Linked DNA regions of Homo sapiens. Changing the gene in region 1 together with any one later gene gives a genetic interaction. Each region holds a gene or a part of one and is shown on either strand. Other genes may lie near its edges.

What was found.
Region 2: of MAPKAPK2 (region 1) and EGF, changing one enhances a phenotype caused by changing the other (phenotypic enhancement), as found in Homo sapiens cells (one study listed by BioGRID).

What each region holds. Positions count from the first base shown.
Region 1 is NC_000001.11:206,679,676-206,688,834, forward strand, and holds the start of MAPKAPK2 (MAP kinase-activated protein kinase 2), read left to right. Parts: upstream 1-5,229; 5' UTR 5,230-5,554; coding exon 5,555-5,833; intron 5,834-5,958; exon of another isoform or gene 5,959-6,182; intron 6,183-9,159. UniProt on the Homo sapiens protein: Stress-activated serine/threonine-protein kinase involved in cytokine production, endocytosis, reorganization of the cytoskeleton, cell migration, cell cycle control, chromatin remodeling, DNA damage response and transcriptional regulation.
Region 2 is NC_000004.12:109,915,041-109,924,146, forward strand, and holds part of EGF (pro-epidermal growth factor isoform 1 preproprotein), read left to right. Parts: intron 1-9,106.

The DNA.
Region 1 (9,159 bases):
CCAAGATCGTGTCATTGCACTCCAGCCTGGGCAACAAAGCAAGACTCCATCTCAAAAAAAAAAAAAAAAAAGAATTAGGCATACTGTAGTCCTAATTACTCTCATTTGTAGTCCCTTTGGACCATATTATGTCTGTTGATGTGCAGAGGTGAAGTTTCTGTTCCCCTTTGGGTACTTCCTTCTTTCTCTTTCTATTCGCATTCTTTGCCACTGCCCCAGCTGTTCCCTGCCGTGGCATTAAACTATCAAAGGATGAAGTGCAGATGAGGGCACGGAGGGCACCAAGGGCACCGTGGGTGGGGGAAGGATTTTTCCCCTCTGGGATGTCTTAACTAGGGCATTACCAATGGCACTTGCTATGGGTAGAATTCCTTTCTGTGAGGCAGCCGTTAACACCTTCAGAAAGAGCTAAGATAGAAGGGATGATAGAGGCCATCCTGACCAATATTTTGAGGTCATTTTCTGGGTCAGAAATTTTTGTGACTGAGTCTTATGTATATATATCTGTCACTTTTGCTTTGGGGGAATTTCTCATTTTATCACAGAAATACTAGCCTATGACATGAAGACTATTTCTCTCTGGCTCTAAGCCATTTTTCTTTCCAAGAGTGGGTTTTTAGTGGACAGAGCTTCTTCTGTAAATCATGCTCCTTCTTGCAATATTTTGTTTGCGGTACTAGCAGTGGATACAAAGGCTGCTTTATCTGTGTTCATGCGCAGATCCGCCAGCCTGTGGATGATCCTCACTCATCAAGAGAGTGTTAGCTGAAAATTTCCAAGAGATCCACCTCCATAAATTTCCACCCTCTGTCACTCATTCATAATGCCACGTCATAGTAAAACAGGAAACTTTTACTCCATGATGGTGTGAAGGCTGTGTGGGGGAATCTTGAAGAAAAAGATTGTCACAATGTATCCTATCATATAACCCAGTCATGCAAATTAACATAGACCTATATTCTGTAACAGATTAGGCCAAGATGGAAGGAAATTGAGGTGTGGAAAATTTATGTTGCTCTAAAATGGAAAGAATAGCCCATACCTCTTCAGGCAATTCCTGCCCAGAAATAGCAGATATCATATTTCTGACATTAAGAAGGATATGTGAGTATATGTCTGCTCAGGATCTATAGTAAGGACCATGAGCATGGACTTTGGGTCAGAAAGATTTGGGTCCTGTCCTTCGCTAGTGGAATGACTCTGAGAAAGTTATTTAATTTCTCTGGGACTCAGTTTTCTTGTTTATACAACAGATAAGTGAGGATAACAGTACAGACCTCATAGGGCTGTGTAAGAGTAGGATAAGGTTTGGCTGTGAATGATAGAAAACCTAGACCATCAGTCACTTCAACAAGAAGGCCATTTATTGTTCTTTCATATAAAAGTCTGGGTAGGTGGCTCATTGCTGATATGATGGATCCAGGTTCACCAGTATACAGACTCTTTCTGTCCTTTTGTTCTGTCTTCCTCAACCTGTAACCTCCAATTCACCATCCAAGATGGCTACAGCTGTGAAATTTTTATTCCAGTCAGCAGGAAAGAAAAAAGAGAAGGAGAAGAAGAAGGACATACTTCTTTCCATAAACCACTTCCACTTACAAGTCATTGGTTATAACTTAATCTTATGAATGTAACCGGCTATAGTGGAGGCTGCTCAAGTGGGAAATGTAATTTTTATTCCAGGCAGTCTTGTGCTTAGCTAAATATGGGGTGCTCTTTACTATCAAAGAGAGGAAAAAAAGGTGTTAGCCCACCCAACTAGCAATCTCAGCCACGGATCATCATGAGATTTAAATGAGACAATGCAGGTAGAGGGTTGAGCACAGTGTTGGGCACTCAGGAAGCACTCAAAAAACATTGTCATCGTCATCATCATCATCATCATCAACATCATCATCACCATCATCATGAGAAGGTGAGGAATACTTTGAAACTGTGACAAGGCATTTTCTTATTTTAACCTGGTCTTGCTGCTAACATCACCCTTGGCCACCTCCCTTTTAAGGTGATTTGAGTTTCATCTTTTATGATACCTTTGAACATGCCTTCATGAAACAAAACTATATAAAAAGGAAAGCAAGGGAAAGGTGAACATAGGACTCAGGATGATGGGGTCTTGGGCCATGAAAATGGAGGGGTTGGGGGAGTGTGTGTGGAGGAATCATCTAGTTAGATGTAAATTATTGTCGAAGTTCTAGTTTTTATTTTGGGTAGTGGATTCACAGGTGCTTACTGCATTATTAAAAATAATTATTAACTAACAATAAAAGTGGAGCTGCATGGATCAATGATCCAATGACGAGAGTGTGTCATGAATCAAGGATTATAATTAATCCATTTCTATGTACCTGAGGTCCTTAAATTGTCTTTGTGTGTACTATATTGCATGGCATATGTGTTTGCATGTTAATAGTAGATAAAAATAGTACTTTCTATTTGCATAGACTTTCAAGTTTTAAAGCGCTTTTACACATCCATAAAAACTGTTTATTAAGTAGTTCATTACAGATGGCTAAGAGCCTGGTGTTACACAAATAGGACTTTGGACTGCTTCCTGTAGGAAAGTTTTTATTTTATCCTTGCACAAGCCCTACAAAGTAGGCAAGGCAGATGTTATTGTCACTATTTTGCAGATGAGAAGGAAGGAACTGAGAGAGCAAGGGGCTCTCATGAGGTTACATAGCGAGTCAGTATCAGAATGGAACTTAAGACTCAGGATCTCTTGGCCAGTGCTTCTGCATTTAGCACATCTTACTCCTCAATTATTCATCCACTAGGCGTTTATTCTGTTACATGGCACATTGTGCTCATGTGTTGTGTTCATATATGTGTGTGTTTTCTGGTGCTGTGTGTGCAGTTCATATAATCTCTATCCACTATGTATGTACCCTCAGAGTCCCTGTGTGCCCCCTAGGCCTATTTGGCTCTTGCAGCTCCGGGAGGACTCTCAGGTGGGAATTCAGTTGTCCTGTTATTCCTAGATCATTGGGCCTCACCATCTCCCTGGAGCTCCAGCTAGGTAGGAAAGCAGCTTTGATATCAGGAATAGATCCGTAGGCCATGAGCACAGAGCAGAGGAGCAAGCCAGCAATGTCTAAATAATGGTGATATTTAATATTTCATGATAATGTATAGTTTATGCTTTAGGATGTGTTCTCATAATTACTATTTCATTTTATTCTCTCTCAGCCCCGAAAGTAGATTTTGTTGTTTTTTTCTTTTCTTTTTCAGATGCTGAGAGATGTTACATGTCTTGCTCAAGGTAACCCAGTTGGAGGACAGTCTTGGCTTCAGCTCATTTGTCTCTAGATCCTGTCATCTTACCACTGTGCCTTGCTGCCTCTGAAAAGGCAGAAGGAAGTTATTCTCTTTCTAGCTTTGTGGAGAAAAGCAGGTGATACCTCAACACCAAGCCATAGGGAGCTTCCAGTGACTCTGCAAAGAAAAAAAAGACCAACTCAGACTCCAGAGCAGCCCCACCAGAGCCTGAGCAGTTGGAGCCTTCCACCTTCCCACCCCTGCGTTCCTCTTGTCCTTGGGCATCTCCTGTGTGTGCTTCGGGGAGGTGATAGCAGTGCTATAGAAGTAGTGGAGTGAAGATGTTTTCCTATCCCCGTGGCCTTAGATAGTGTCTTTGTCTTTGAAGAGTCAGGGGCATCTGGGGAGCTGTCTAACCGTATCTATCCTGTAGACTCGGGAGGAAGCTGCTGGCTGCTGTAGACAGAAGAGAATCCCTGTGCTTCGGGCTCCTAGGAAGGTGTCTGCCATCCTCTCTGTGCCACTGTTATCTGTCTTCTTCCCCATCAGATAACACCATCCACCGCTGCAGGGCTGAGCACGGCACCTTGTACATGGAGCTAAGCAGATGCTGCTTGAGAAGAGCATATGTTTGTGTCGGGGGAAACATGTCTCTCCTTGGTCCACAGAGCCCTACCTGCCCCAGGAAAGGACAGTGTTGGGAGGGTAACTCCCACCCCTCACTCCTCCCCCTCATTCCTGCCTCCACAAGCATCTTCTGGGAAAGGTGAATGAGGGAAGAGACATTTGCACTTGTCCCTTACCTACCTAAGTTCTATCCCCAGTGGCCACTTCTGGGGGTGTTGTCTTCTCTCTGGAGTTTTGGGGGACCTATTAGGGGGCATGTGTGGCCATAGGTCAAGCCTCATTCTCTAACTGGCCTTACCAAGACTTAAGCTGAGGTTTTGTGTTCACCTGTCTGGGTTGCTTGCCATTTCTCAAATGTTCTGCCAGTCAGAGGTGGGAGGAGGTCGGCAGGAATGTACTTGGTCATCTCGAACCCCATCAGAATGTGTGTGGAGGCCTCCTGGCAGCTTCTATGCAGGGTCCAGCTAGATCCCTGGGCTTTTCCTGAGATACACGGGGCTAACCCACTTCTTACGGATTAATTTTTCCACATCGGAAATCAGAAGCCATTCCCCAGGGCCTCCCCTTCAGTTTCATTATCTCCTTTGACTCTGCCCACAACCTTTGAAAAGGTCTCGCTGTTCTTCCCACGGAGAGAGAGGTGCAAGGCTTGCTCAGCCTCACACAGCCAATCCGTGGCAAAGGATGGCGGGAATTCAGGTGGCCCCAATCTCAACCCATCCTCTTCCCACCCTGTATCCTTTTTAGTTTATTTACAGGAAAACATGTTCAAAGGTATAATTACTAAAGTGCTCCTGGTTACACAATAATACGTCTTTACTGAAAAACAATAAATTAATGAGAAAAGAGATGCAAAAAACCTCAGAGGAAAATGTTGAAGTTAGGGAAATATTTAATACGCCCGCCTTTGGCTCACACCTTTTCCTGGGATGAATGACCCCTGTGATTCCAGCTCCCCCCCACCCCCACGAGGTCTCATCTAGCTGGATACCTACAAGCCATCCCTGTCCTTGGAAATACACCCCTCTCCCAATTCGCTGCCGCTAAGAAGCCCAGACAATTGGAGAGGAGTGGATTTTCCATCTGAATTATGCAGCTCCTTTGACACGCCTCCCCTCTCCCTTTGCATAGCCTTGGTTAAGAACTAGCATTTCTTCGTCCCCTCTCCCTGTCCCCTCTCACTGTCCGCGAGGCAGCAGCCCCCAGCCTACTCCGCGATCCTCCCAGCTCCCGGCACCGCGCGTCCTCCCCTTTAAGGCCCGCCCCTCCCCCCACGCCACGCCTCCCCAGGCCCCGCCCCCCGCCCCTCCCCTTTAAGGACCGGCCCCGGACGCAGACGAGGCTGTGACGCGGCCGCCGGCCCGGGGCTGGGTACATTGTCGCGCGGCCGCTTCCCCCCGGCCGGGCCCCCGCCGCCCCGCGGTCCCCAGAGCGCCAGGCCCCCGGGGGGAGGGAGGGAGGGCGCCGGGCCGGTGGGAGCCAGCGGCGCGCGGTGGGACCCACGGAGCCCCGCGACCCGCCGAGCCTGGAGCCGGGCCGGGTCGGGGAAGCCGGCTCCAGCCCGGAGCGAACTTCGCAGCCCGTCGGGGGGCGGCGGGGAGGGGGCCCGGAGCCGGAGGAGGGGGCGGCCGCGGGCACCCCCGCCTGTGCCCCGGCGTCCCCGGGCACCATGCTGTCCAACTCCCAGGGCCAGAGCCCGCCGGTGCCGTTCCCCGCCCCGGCCCCGCCGCCGCAGCCCCCCACCCCTGCCCTGCCGCACCCCCCGGCGCAGCCGCCGCCGCCGCCCCCGCAGCAGTTCCCGCAGTTCCACGTCAAGTCCGGCCTGCAGATCAAGAAGAACGCCATCATCGATGACTACAAGGTCACCAGCCAGGTCCTGGGGCTGGGCATCAACGGCAAAGTTTTGCAGATCTTCAACAAGAGGACCCAGGAGAAATTCGCCCTCAAAGTAGGTCTGGGGCCCGGGGAGGGGAGGCGGGGCCGGTCCCGGGCCCTGGAGCTCCACGGCGTCGGGTGCCCGTCCCGGCCTGGGTCGCGGCGCGGGGCGGAGGGGTGGCCGCGGCGGGGCGGGGCGGGGCGGCCGGGCCGGCGGTGCCGAGTGCGGCGCGGGCGGCGGGTCCCAGCGCCCTCGCCTCCCTGACCGCTTCCGGCCGCTCCCGGGCGGGAGCCCTGGGACCCGCTCCTGGGGACTCAGGGGACCCTGCCATTTTGGGGTTTGAGCGGGATCCAGCCGAGTCAGAACGGTTGGCTTCGGGACTTCTGCTAATTTCACTCCATCTCAAGGAAGTGATTTTGGGGTTGGTGGTTCCCCGTCCTCTCCTCCCTCCTTTTTCTCTCTCTGCGGGCACAAAAGGCCCATTACTCATTGAGCCGGTTGGTCGGTTGGTTTGGAGAAGTCGGATCGCAGAGGTTTATTTAGCCTCGCTCCTTATTTGGGAGCCGGAATGTGTGATTTCACTTCCCCGAGCCTCGCGAGGGCAGCCGGGCCGCCTTGGGGCGCGCCGGGCAGGAGGTGTGCGGCGGGAGGGTCCTGGGTGTCCCCCGGCTGCGGGGGCGGGATTATTTGGATCCCGGAGCTGGCCCCCTCAGCTGGCCCCCTCCCACGCCCGCGCGGGGCGGCTCCGGGGAGAGGCCGGCGGTGTCCGCGGCCCGGCTGATCATTGTGAACAGAGTCTGTAACCCGCGGCCGGGCCCGTGCTGATTCCGCCTCCTAGAGAGGGCCACTTGCTGTCCTGGACTCGCGCCGTGATGGGCAGTCTGAGGAAACATTATCCTTGAGCCGGGGGAGCCCATCCCTTTTCTTTCTTTAAGGGGTGTGGTGGTGGGGAGAATAAGGATTCAAGTGAGAATATCGACTTCAGAAGTTAAACACAATGGACTGGGAGGTCTCATGAGATGGGTGGGTCCGCAGTGAAGTGTGAGCCGGTCTTGCAGGGTCACCAACAAGGTTTTCCTCTCACAGGGGTTTCAGGTCAAACCAATCTCTAAAGGTGACGCCTCAGGTCTGTTTCCCCTGGGGTGTCTCAATGATTGGAGGAGGAGAAAAATACTTCCTGTGTTATATTTTTCTCTTCCCCTTCAGCCCCCACAGCGAGCTGTATTTCAGTTGTCAAGTACAAAACTCAGAAATGTGGTATGGGTGGAACTATTGGAATATACGATCAGATGTTTTAAAAGAAACACCAGTACTTCGGGGTTGTACGGGGCAAGCATGTTCCATTTCTAGATTTTAAGGCCTCTAGAATTGTTTTCCTGCTGCTCTCATACTCAACCCTGTTACAGTGCTTTGCTTTCTACTGTAAGTTATTGCTCTGGGATCTCGGTTGTTGTTTAGTGTTGACTGTTGGAGAGGGGATAAGTATCTTCAACACTTCAACATTTGTGTCTTAGACTTCTCTTTCCCTACTCATAACTGAAGGGAAAGGAGGAGGAGGAGTTGTTTGGATTGAGCATGGCTCTGACCTTGGGGACTGGAGTTGGGTGAATACAGTTTGACCACAGTTAACCTGTATCATTGAGGAAGTGACAGACGGTCTTTACAGGAGTGTTTGCTGTCCCCTCTGAGACACCATCTGCCTTCACCCATTAGTAGTTTGGGGACACTGGCTGTTCATTCTCTTGGATATTTGGAATATTATGTAAAGACTTCAGAACAAAAGCTCCCAACTTCTGCTCTGTATTCTGTTTAATAGACACACGCACAAAATCATCCTATAAAATGCTTTTGAGTGGCAATTCAGATTTCTCTTGTAACTAACGAGAGAGAGGTTTACATATTTTTCTACTTTGAATAGTTTTGGAAGGAAAAATCCAGCAGCGTGTTAAATAACACTCATAGTTTATCCCTCTCAGGTTAGAAGTGGGCGAAGAGTGAAGTCAGTCTGTTTTGACAGGCAGCCTGCTCCCAGATCTTTTAAGTTGACTCAACTGTTAAATTGTGGATTTCCCACACACGTCTTTGTGTTAAAACTTAATAATGGAGGAAGAAAGGAGAGACAAGGCATTTGGAGACTGACAGCAGTGTTAACAGCACTTCCATATCCAAATATTGGCTGAGACATAATTACAGCTGTGGGGGGAATCTGGTTCAAAGAACGCTGTTCCAGAGACACACACCAAAGAGATTTCTAGATCTTGAATTTTGATTAACCTCAGGTGCTGAGTAGTGAAATGGTTTTCAAAACCAGAAGTCTAGTGATTATAAAGCAGGAGAGGAAGATGGAGTGGGGCAAGAGGGATTACCCCCTTGGGAAGGTGCCTGAGAAAAGGGGAGGAGACCTCTATTCTACAGTGTGCCGAGGCCAATGCTGGGGGCTAGGGCAGAGCTGGAGGGCAGGAGCCCAGCCTCTGCTGGGGTTCAGAAGTCTGCTATGTTGCAGCCCTGAGAGTTGATGGGAGCTGGCAGCTGCTTAGATGCTCTCCTCTCTGCCTATAGTCGGTGACCTCTTAGCCCTGTTAAGTGAAATCAGCATTTGAAAAAGAGTCCCAGCTCACCCTGCTGCTTCTCTCCCTCCACCTCAGAGAGCTCCCATTTAAATGCTTTTGGTGGGTGCTTTGACCTCACCTCACCATCTCTCCTGGCTGCTTTTGCTAAGTTCTGAGTCATGCTTCCAGTCAGAGTTGCAAGGGACTTGAAAGGTCATTTTGTCCAGCCCCCTTATTTTGCAGAAGAGAAAACCAAGGCCCAGAGTGAGGGAGTGACTTGTTCAAGGTACCATAGCCATTCACTTGGCAGAGGCAGGATTGGAACCCAGGTTGCCTGACTCCCAGTCTCAGGCTTCTTCCCACTTACTTCCTAACTGAGCCACGGGCTCAGGCACATGGCCACCTGCTGCTCCAGGGTGCTTCCAGCCTGAGGAGCTGTTCTGTCACCTCAGGCCCTGACTGACAAGAGGGGAGGTCAGCGAAGGGGGCTGGATGGGTATTTGCTGCTCCTGAGAACAGTCCCCAAAGTTGGAGGGGAACTTCAACAGTAGCTTCATGCATTTTTTTAACCACTCCCTCCCCCTTTTAAGAGAGTATTTGATAGGCACCTTACTTACTATTTTTTGTACAAGAACATGGGAATTCTATTATTTTTATTTTTATTTTTTTTGAGACAGAGTGTTGCTCTGTCGCCCAGGTTAGAGTGCAGTAGCACGATCTTGGCTCACTGCAAGCTCTGCTTCCCAGGTCCACGCCATTCTGCCTCAGCCTCCTGAGTAGCTGGGACTACAGGCGCCCGTCACCATGCCCGGCTAATTTTTTGTATTTTTAGTAGAGATGGGGTTTCAC
Region 2 (9,106 bases), on another chromosome or scaffold:
AGAATAGTCTGATTCCTGCTGGCAAGCAAGTCTATGCCTTGTTTTCCTTGCCACCTCTGGTGGCTCAGAAGTGCCTTCATTGAGGTAGGTTGTACCCAATAAACATGAAACCCAGGATAGAAACAATAAGTTGGGGAGACTGTGTCACAGAGTGGAAGGAACCACAGGTTTTAGAAACAAACAAGCCTCATTTCATATCCATGCTACCAACTTAATAGCTGAGTTACTTTAGAGTATCTCTGGGAAATAATACCCTCGCCCACTGCTTTTAGGATTTTTTTGTGGGGAATCACATGAGATAACCTAGCATGTACCAAAGCATGGTGCTTAGCAGAGTATGCTCAATAAATGTCCTCCTGGGCTCCACGTCTTGGCTAAATCTCTGATCAAGTCATACGATGAGATGCCGTATTTGAACAGTGCAGTGACACGGCACAGATCCATGGAGTGTGGAATGTGTGGATGGCACTTTGGGATTCCCTGCCTCTCTGCTACCTCATTTCTTGCAAGTCACTGGTTTAAATCCCGTACTTTACGCTCCTGGTCTCATGTTAGCTGATAACTGCCTGGGTCACCCTTTGTCAGTCACTGTGTGCATTTCAGAGGATAGTATTTCTTTCTCCTCTCTAAATAGATATGGTGCCATCATCTATTTTTCCCTCATTTAAATTCTACTTGCCTTATTTCTTGCCCTTGGCATTGAGACAGATCACCTCTGCAGCCACCTGACCCAGCAGGAAGAATGCTTTATGGTCTAACAGTATTCAGGTAAACTTATGCAAGATTGTTACTCATGTGACTGCTAGCCGGATAAACCAAGTGATAGCAACACAATTAGGTTTCTTTCTATTCCCCTCCCTCTCCCTCCTTTTAACTGAGTATTCTGTTAGCGTCTACTTGAGCTACAGCAGGTGAGGACAGCAGGAAAGAAAACTGCTGGCAAGTGGTTTCTGAACCTTCAAGTCTATTTACCCTGGAGGACAAATAACAGTTGAAAAAGAAATTGTTCCTGTTTGGCTTCTGTACCTGCATTATTTATATGAACTTTTTTGGTAATAAAGGGTAAGGAAGAAGTACAGCCTCCCAGCTGCGGGAGGGATCCTGGGGTGGCACTAAGTTATCACTTTTAGTAGTAAACAGTGAAATCAGTGATTTCAGTACCGGCTAAGGCGTGGTCAGCATCCCAGTCATGTGCAAACCAGAGTAATTCTGAGACCAGAAGCTTGTCTGTTTTTTCAGCCAGGGTTATGCGATTTTTTTTCTTTTTTTCTAACAGCAGTGAAACTAACCTCCAAATATTCAGTGGTGTTTGGTCATTGAGCTTAGTGGTAAAGAAGCATAAATTTTGGAGACAGATTTCTTGCCTGGATTCAAATCCCATTTCTGCTGCTTGTGAACTGTTTGTCTCATTTTCCTTACCCTAAAATGAAGATAATTGTACCCTCTTCCGAGGACTCTTGTCAGTATTGCGTTAATGTATTCATTTTCAGTGCTGGCTGTGCATTAGAATCACTAATGTCTGGGTGGCCACCCCGGGCAGTCTGGATCAGAGTCTCTTCTGGGAGTGGAATCTAGGCCTTATTTTTTTTTAATGTGGTGATTCTAACCAACAGCCTGGGTTAGAACCACTGAGTTAATATATGTAAAGTGCACAAAACAGAGCTTGGCATACAATAAACACTCGATAAGCCCGAGATTCTATTAATGTTTTGTTGTTTTAAAAATTATTTTTATGAATGTAATGGTATTTTCTAAATGTGGCTTGGTTTCGCCTATAATCATCGAACATTTTTTATACATGACAAAATGCCATAGTGAAAAACCCAATAATAGTTCTACAACATTAAAAATTATAGTCAAAATAATTTAAAAATACATAACTCATATTTTTGTAATCAGAAGAAATGTTTATTAAAAATACAAGAACATGTCAACTTGATTTGAGTAAGTACCTTTGTGAAACTGTGGCTCTGGTGTTTGTCTTTTTCTTATACCAACTGATAAAAAATTTCATTCATTGCAAATTAACTCTGTTCGTCGGGTTTCTTACCGGTAATAATCTTATTTTAACAGCAGCAAAAACAAGCCACTTGAAAGTGATAGCGATTATTTCAGTTTTTTGCATATTTTTGCCCATGTGTGGAACCCTTCCCTTGTGGATTTTTAAAGCTATTAAAAGCATATAAAAATGGTAAATTAGTTTTCTCAGTTAATTTACATTTTGGGGCTAATTTGAGCTTGTCAAAATATTTGACATTCAATTTAGAAGTTGCTTGTGTTCATGGTAGAGCAAGTAATTGATTGTTTCTATCAAAAGTAAACAGACTAATAATTTGGCTCAAGCAAATTAAAAACCTTACTTTATAATTTACAAATCTGCCTTTATGAAAATCCATTTCAAATTATTCCTTGGGTAGTATGGTTGGTTGGAGGTTTTTTAGCTTTTAGTTTTTGTCTTTTTTTTTTAATTTCAATTTTTACTTTACATTCAGGTGTACATGTGGAGGTTTGTTACAAGGGGATATTGTGTGATGGTGAGGTTTGGGCTTCTATTGATCCCATGTGATCAGTTGGTTTTTTATTTTTATTTTTATTTTTTGAGACAGGTTTTGCTCTGTCGCCCAGGCTGGAGTACAGTGGCATGATCTTGGCTCACTGCAACCTCCGCCTCCCAGGTTCAAGCAATTCTCCTGTCTCAGCCTCCTGAGTAGTTGGGATTACAGGCATATGCCACCACACCTGCTAATTTTTGTATTTTTAGTAGAGATGGGGTTTCATCATGTTGGCCAGGCTGGTCTCGAACTCCTGACCTCAAGTGATCAGCCCACCTCAGCCTCCCAAAGTGCTGGGATTACAGGCATGAGCCACCACGACTGGCCTCAGTTGGTTTATTAAATCAGTACTCTCCAGACTCCGTTCCATCAGTAAAATAATTAAAATGTAAGCATATGCTTCTAATAAACACATTTACTTATCAATTACATACATGTAATATGTACACTGTACACATGAACATGTGTATGTAATGAACATTACACAACAAATAACGTATCTAATATTTTCTTTCTACACAATAGCAAACCATCTTACATAGCCTCTATGTGATATACACCCTCCTTGGAAGATAGTTTTAGAAAATAAGTGAAATGGTAGAATAAACGTTTACCTTTTCTTCACTATAAGCTCTGTTCCTTTCTCTTGATTGCTAGGTGTGGTTTTTTTTTTTTTTTTAAATTTCAAGTAAAGGTGGGTTATTCATAGCGAATGACTTTTCTCAGAGTGTGTAATGGTAGAAACAGAAATGCGTGTGGTTGTGCTGAGATTCTTCCGGAAGGAGTGGAAGGCCAGATGATGTTCCTGAGGGGGACCTGGAGTTTGAGAAATGCCCAAGTCCTGTGGCTTGCTGGGCTCAGCATCTATTTAAATTAAAGTGACCTGCACCTCTATCATATGTTCCAGGAAACCCAATGTCTCTCTCCTCTGTCTTGGAAGATGCTGGAGGTGGGGGCTGTGATGAGGAAGGCAAGGCTATGTGTCCCTTCTGGGCCTCCTACTGAATGATTCATCTACTGTGTGTCTCACTGCCCTCATGTACTGTCCCTTTCCCATACTTCACCACCTCACACCAGCCACCACCCTGTCTCACTTACTTCTTGAAAGAACGAGGAAACAATTGTTATGAGCTGTGAGGGGACAGACTTTACCTGAAGGTTTGCTGTTGGGAGGGTTGGGGCAAGGGCAGGGGCTGCTTACATCCCAGCGCTTCCAACAACAAAGTAAAACATTTTTCATTCCTGTTCCTAAAAGTGACACAAGGTCATCTGTGGAAGGGACTTGCCAGACATCTCTTTTTCTTGGGCCTTAGTCTTCCACCACATGAGCGAAACCCTCTTTCTCCCACAGTGATACTGACCTGCACCTTGGCCGCTTTCCTGGGCCTCCTTAATCTACTTCAGACCATCCATATCCTTCTGCAGAACATTTTAGATTTCTTCTTCCTCCAATTTTGCTTTTCTGATCATATCCGAGACTTGCCTTTTTAAATGAAAATAACTTCAAAAACTATTAAATAGTGAGCTGATGTGTTTTGCTAAACAAAAACAGTTGTGTACTCCTTTGAGAATTTCTGGCTCCTGATTTCAAAGTAATCATTTTTCTTTTCCTTCTACAATGGGAGATGTTAATTTTGAGACAGAAGTGAAGATTCTTGTAGGCAGTCCCAGGTATTAGGAATGCATGCTTCTCTGTCTCTCTCTCTCTCTCTCTCTCTCTCTCTCTCTCTCTCTCTCTCTCTCTCTCTCATCTCTCTCTCTCTCTCATCTCTCTCTCCCTCTGTCTGTATCTCTCTCTGTCCTGTATTCTGAGTCTGGGAAGGGACTACTGCACTTTGGGGCTGGGGAGTGCCTTTACTTTGGCTTGATGGACATAAGTCATAAGTAAGGCAGGGCACTGACTTGAAAAGAGACTTTAACAGGTCTGGTCATGGCCAGTGATTGTGAGTTATACTATAGGTTGTCCTCCTCCCCTCTCCACAATTCTTAAAGAGGACTTCAGTAAAAGTTAGACATTGATCTCACTTGTGCTCAGGTGAAATGGTACATGAGTGACAGGTAGGGGGGAACTACTTCCAGGAGCACTGTGGCCTCACATTGGTGTGGCCAGAGATCAAGGAGATCAGAGGAGAGCTCTTGATGGGGTAAGGATGAGAGAGGTAGGCCCCGGAATCTCTCAGAAAGGTCTAGGATGGAAAGATTTTAAAGAAGGCTAATTTCCAGCAATTTGCTTGTGGTGGCATGGTCCAAAAAATTTCACTATAAAAAAGAAATGTGCCCTTATTTAGTAGTTACTGACTGGACAGGTCAAGTGTAAACGATACACATCTGTAAATAGAGAAGTATGCTCAGAATATTCCCTAGTCAGTCAGTGGTCTGCTATTGGGAGCATCAAATAGTTTGGCTTGTGAATCAGTACAATGTCTTTTATTTTTATCGTTGATGCATAGGTTTCATTTAACAAATTCATATAGATGAATTTATAAGTTGTTTTTTAATCCATACAGAGTTAAAAAGTCAAACATTGAACCTCAGATGAAAGGTAACAAAGATTTCTTACCTGGAAAATAAGTCTTCTAAAATCTGTTCGAAGTCCTTAAACTTTTTGTCACTTTGATTACAATAGAGGAAACTCGGAGAACCTAGCAACTTTCCAATGTAAATTGCCTGATCTAAGCTATTTTAGCAATTATTGTACAGAAGTAGTTTTTATAAACTTATTGCAAACAAAACAATTAAAGACTCAATAACTATCCTCAATAGCTGGAAATGACTGCATTGGAGAGCGTTTTCAAAATAGTCAGTTTTTAAGAAACAAATCACTTTATCTCACTGGTGTGGCCAGAGGTCGAGGAGAACAGGGGAGAGCACTTGATGGGGCGAGGAGAAGAGAGGCAGGCCCTGGAATCTCTCAGAAAGGTCTAGGTCAGTTTTAAAGAAAGAAATCACGTTCTTTTAAAGGATTCCTAAATCTTTTTCAAGAAATTTTAAATTCCAGGAAGCAGTTTAGTGCTTAGTTTAATTATTACTCCAAATTTGGGCCATCCTAGAGCTAGTAAACAAAATATTAGTCTTATTATGTTATAGTTTCTCATGTGAGAATTAGAATTAACTTTAAGAAAGAACCAGAAACAACAACAGCAACTACAGAGATCCTGACCATTGGAATGTAATTGTCCCCATTGTCTATTTACTTCTTGCCTACAGGCCAGCGCTTTCCTCCAGAATGCTAATATTGTTCACCATGAAGGAAGTATTGCCTAGATATTAGGTGAACTAAGAACTAGATTCACTTTGTAGAGATTCTTTATTACCACTGAGGTGGTTGTGCACACGGCCATCCCAGGCCCTTCCCAGATGTCCTGTTTGCTGGGGCTCATGACAAGATGACTGAGAGTCAGGTCTGGAAGGATGAATACTATTATTGCCAGGTGTAGACGAAGAAAAAATTTCACTGAACAGAAGGGATCTTTACACTTCTTGAAAGATCTTACTATCTCTGAAAATGTTTTACTCTCTTGTTTTATATGGCCAAAGTTAATAACTTCCAAAGGCAATTGTGGAATAATGCTTGTCAATATGTCTTTCTTTAGGAGATGTTCTATTTCTTAAGAGCATCTTCCAGAGCTTTCTTCTCAATTCTGGGAATTAGCAAATGTATAGAAACTTCAGTTGTTTTAGCCAAATACAAGGCAGAAACTTCTACTCTCATCACCTGTTGACCTCCTTGCTAAGTCTGGAATCTGAATTGGTGTGAGCATCTGTTTTTTTTTTTATTCTGACTTGATTTTCTGATTCTCCCAAGTTGACCAAACATACTAATGCCTCTCACTGTCTGGGTTTCCCAAGTATTTCCCAGGACATTCAGTACACTGGAATTTGTGTGTGTGTGTGAAGGTATTTGAGAGCCAGCCAACTGCTGTGACAGTGATTCATGGTAGGCACTAATTTATTTGCAAAGCTTCTTCCCAGTGATGTAAGAGTCCTTTTGGAGAAAAGCACTGCCTCCTTCCTCCATTCAGACTAACTTCCCAGGGTGCTATGGACCAGCTTTGTGTGCAGTAAGGGAATTACATCCATGAGGTGGTTCTTTCTGTGGGTAGGTGGTTGCTAGGATACAGATAGTCACAACAGCATCACGGCAGCTGCCTTGTTCTTCAGCACATGGTGTATCAGTTGAGAAATAGTGTTTTATTTCATTCACTCCAACACTTTTCTGGTTAAAATTTTAAAAGCTTGAAGGAGGATCTTTCTTTTTCACACACACCATTCTTGTATAAACAGGTCAAAAACAGATTAGTCAAACTGAACATTGTCATAATACATGCCGGTTGACACCAATCCTCTGCTCTTCCAGCCCAGGCCTTCCCTTACGAGGTTTAAAAACATGCTGAAGGGTTGAAGCTACCAAGGGTCTTCTGGTGTTTTTCTCCCTTCCTCTGAAGTGCATAATTATTCTGTTTACTGGAAGATTTTCAACACAAAGGAAATTAACTTCTCCTTGGTGTGCAAGGAAATTGCAAAGGTTATTGTCATTAATGTTAATTTACCCACTATATCTTTTAGATTCAAGCAACATTGTTTAGAATGGTCAATGCTCTAAGTGGATCAAAAGGCTTATTATTTTTTGGAAGACAAATTTGAAAAACCTGCTGGAACTTTTATCTCTCCTGGTTACTCTAATGAATCATGGCAAAGATTTCATGTAAGTGGGAAAAAATGAGGTATTTGAAGAAAAATGTTCATCTAGGATTTCAATCCATTAAAAAGCACACAATCATGGACACCTACCTACAAGAGGATAAGTGACTGTCTTTCAATACTGACATGTTGTCTTCTGAGACAGGAGCTAATAGAAATATATAGCGCATGACATCCTCTTTAACATGAGCTATGTTGACACATATGAAGTTACTGGGTTTATTACTTCCAAGAGAGGCAGTGCCATTTTCAAACAAAGGATACATTTTAAGCAGAGTGAATTCTGGTTGGTTCTTTATACAGTGGGTTGATCTTGTCACACAGGCAAAAATGGAGCAGTTTTGGGCAGATGGTTCTAGTGTTACGCTTGCTTGTTGCCTTACTTTGCAAGAAGAAGTTCTCTCATCTTTGGTCAACGCCCTATGTCTGGCATGTCATGTTAGGCCTCAGCTTTTGAAATTGATAGGGTCTAATTCTGGAGCTGATATAAGCTGTTAATACCTACCTCTTAGATTGCTATGAGTACTAAATGGATTAATTCTTGTAAAATGCTTAGAATCTTAGCTGACGCAGTGAGTTATCAGCAAATATTGGCTATTACTCTCTACCAAAAACCATAAATGAGACATATTAGAAACATTTTCTATAATTTTTATAATACCTGTTTCTTCAAATTTTCAACAATGCTTAGAGAAGTCGGTTTCCTGGGATGAGCTAAGTCCTAAAAACTATCTTAACCAGCAGGTTCTTTGTGATTTTTAAAAATTATCCTTTTTATTATCCTAACATGTGACAAAACTCCCCATTAATTATTTTTTTTAAATAGTTAATCTTGCTATTTGTTACATATGTCTTCAAGAGAATTATATAAAATATTTTTTATGTATATTTATATAGCTGTACCTATAGGTATATATGTATATAGGTAAGGCCCAGAACTTAATGACCAGTGTAGGATTAATGAGAACAGTGAAACTGGGCTCAGGAAATAGCAATACGCCAACACTTCTTAATTTTACCTCATTTTTGTCTATTTGTCTAGAACACTCAGGATATAGTATCTATAGGCAAATATTTATGTGTTTATCCTTGCAATTTGAGAAACTAAATTTAAAGCTGGTTAAAAAAGAGAGAAGATAATTGTATTCAGTATAAATGAGACTTACACCAAATTTTGTACCTCCAATAAATTTGTTATAGATTTAATCAGTAGATTAATTTTTAGAATTCCTTTAGAAAGTTGAGTGTTTAGTGTCACTTAGGGGGAAGTTATTTAAGTTATTGTTTTACTTCATTTAGTAGGACTCATGATGACATATTTTAAAATTATTTTTATTATTTTTTGAGACAGGGTCTCACTCTTGTCACCCAGGCTGGAGGGCAATGGCACAATCAAAGCACACTGCAGCCTTGACTTCCTGAGCTCAGGTGATGCTTCCACATCAGCTTCCTAAGTAGCTGGAACTACAGGTGTACGCCAGCACACCCAACTAGTTTCTGTATTTTTAGTAGAGACAGGATTTCGCCATGTTGCCCAGGCTGGTCTTGAACTCCTGGGCCCAAGAGAGCCACCCACCTTGGCCTCCCAAAGTGCTGGGATTATAGGTGTGAGCCACCACGCCTGGCCTATGACACTTTATTGATTTCATATTTGAAGTTCCAAGAAACAAAGAAGGAAACAATTCACAGAAAGTAGAGGTTAAGGTGAATAATATTTATGTAGGAATTTACTACAAGTTTAAGCCTCCTTGCCAAAGTGCCACAAAAAAGAAAGTTATTGAATTTTTTAGTGCATATAGAATATGAATTAAATTGATAAATGTCAGATTACGAAGGACCTTCAAGATCATTTA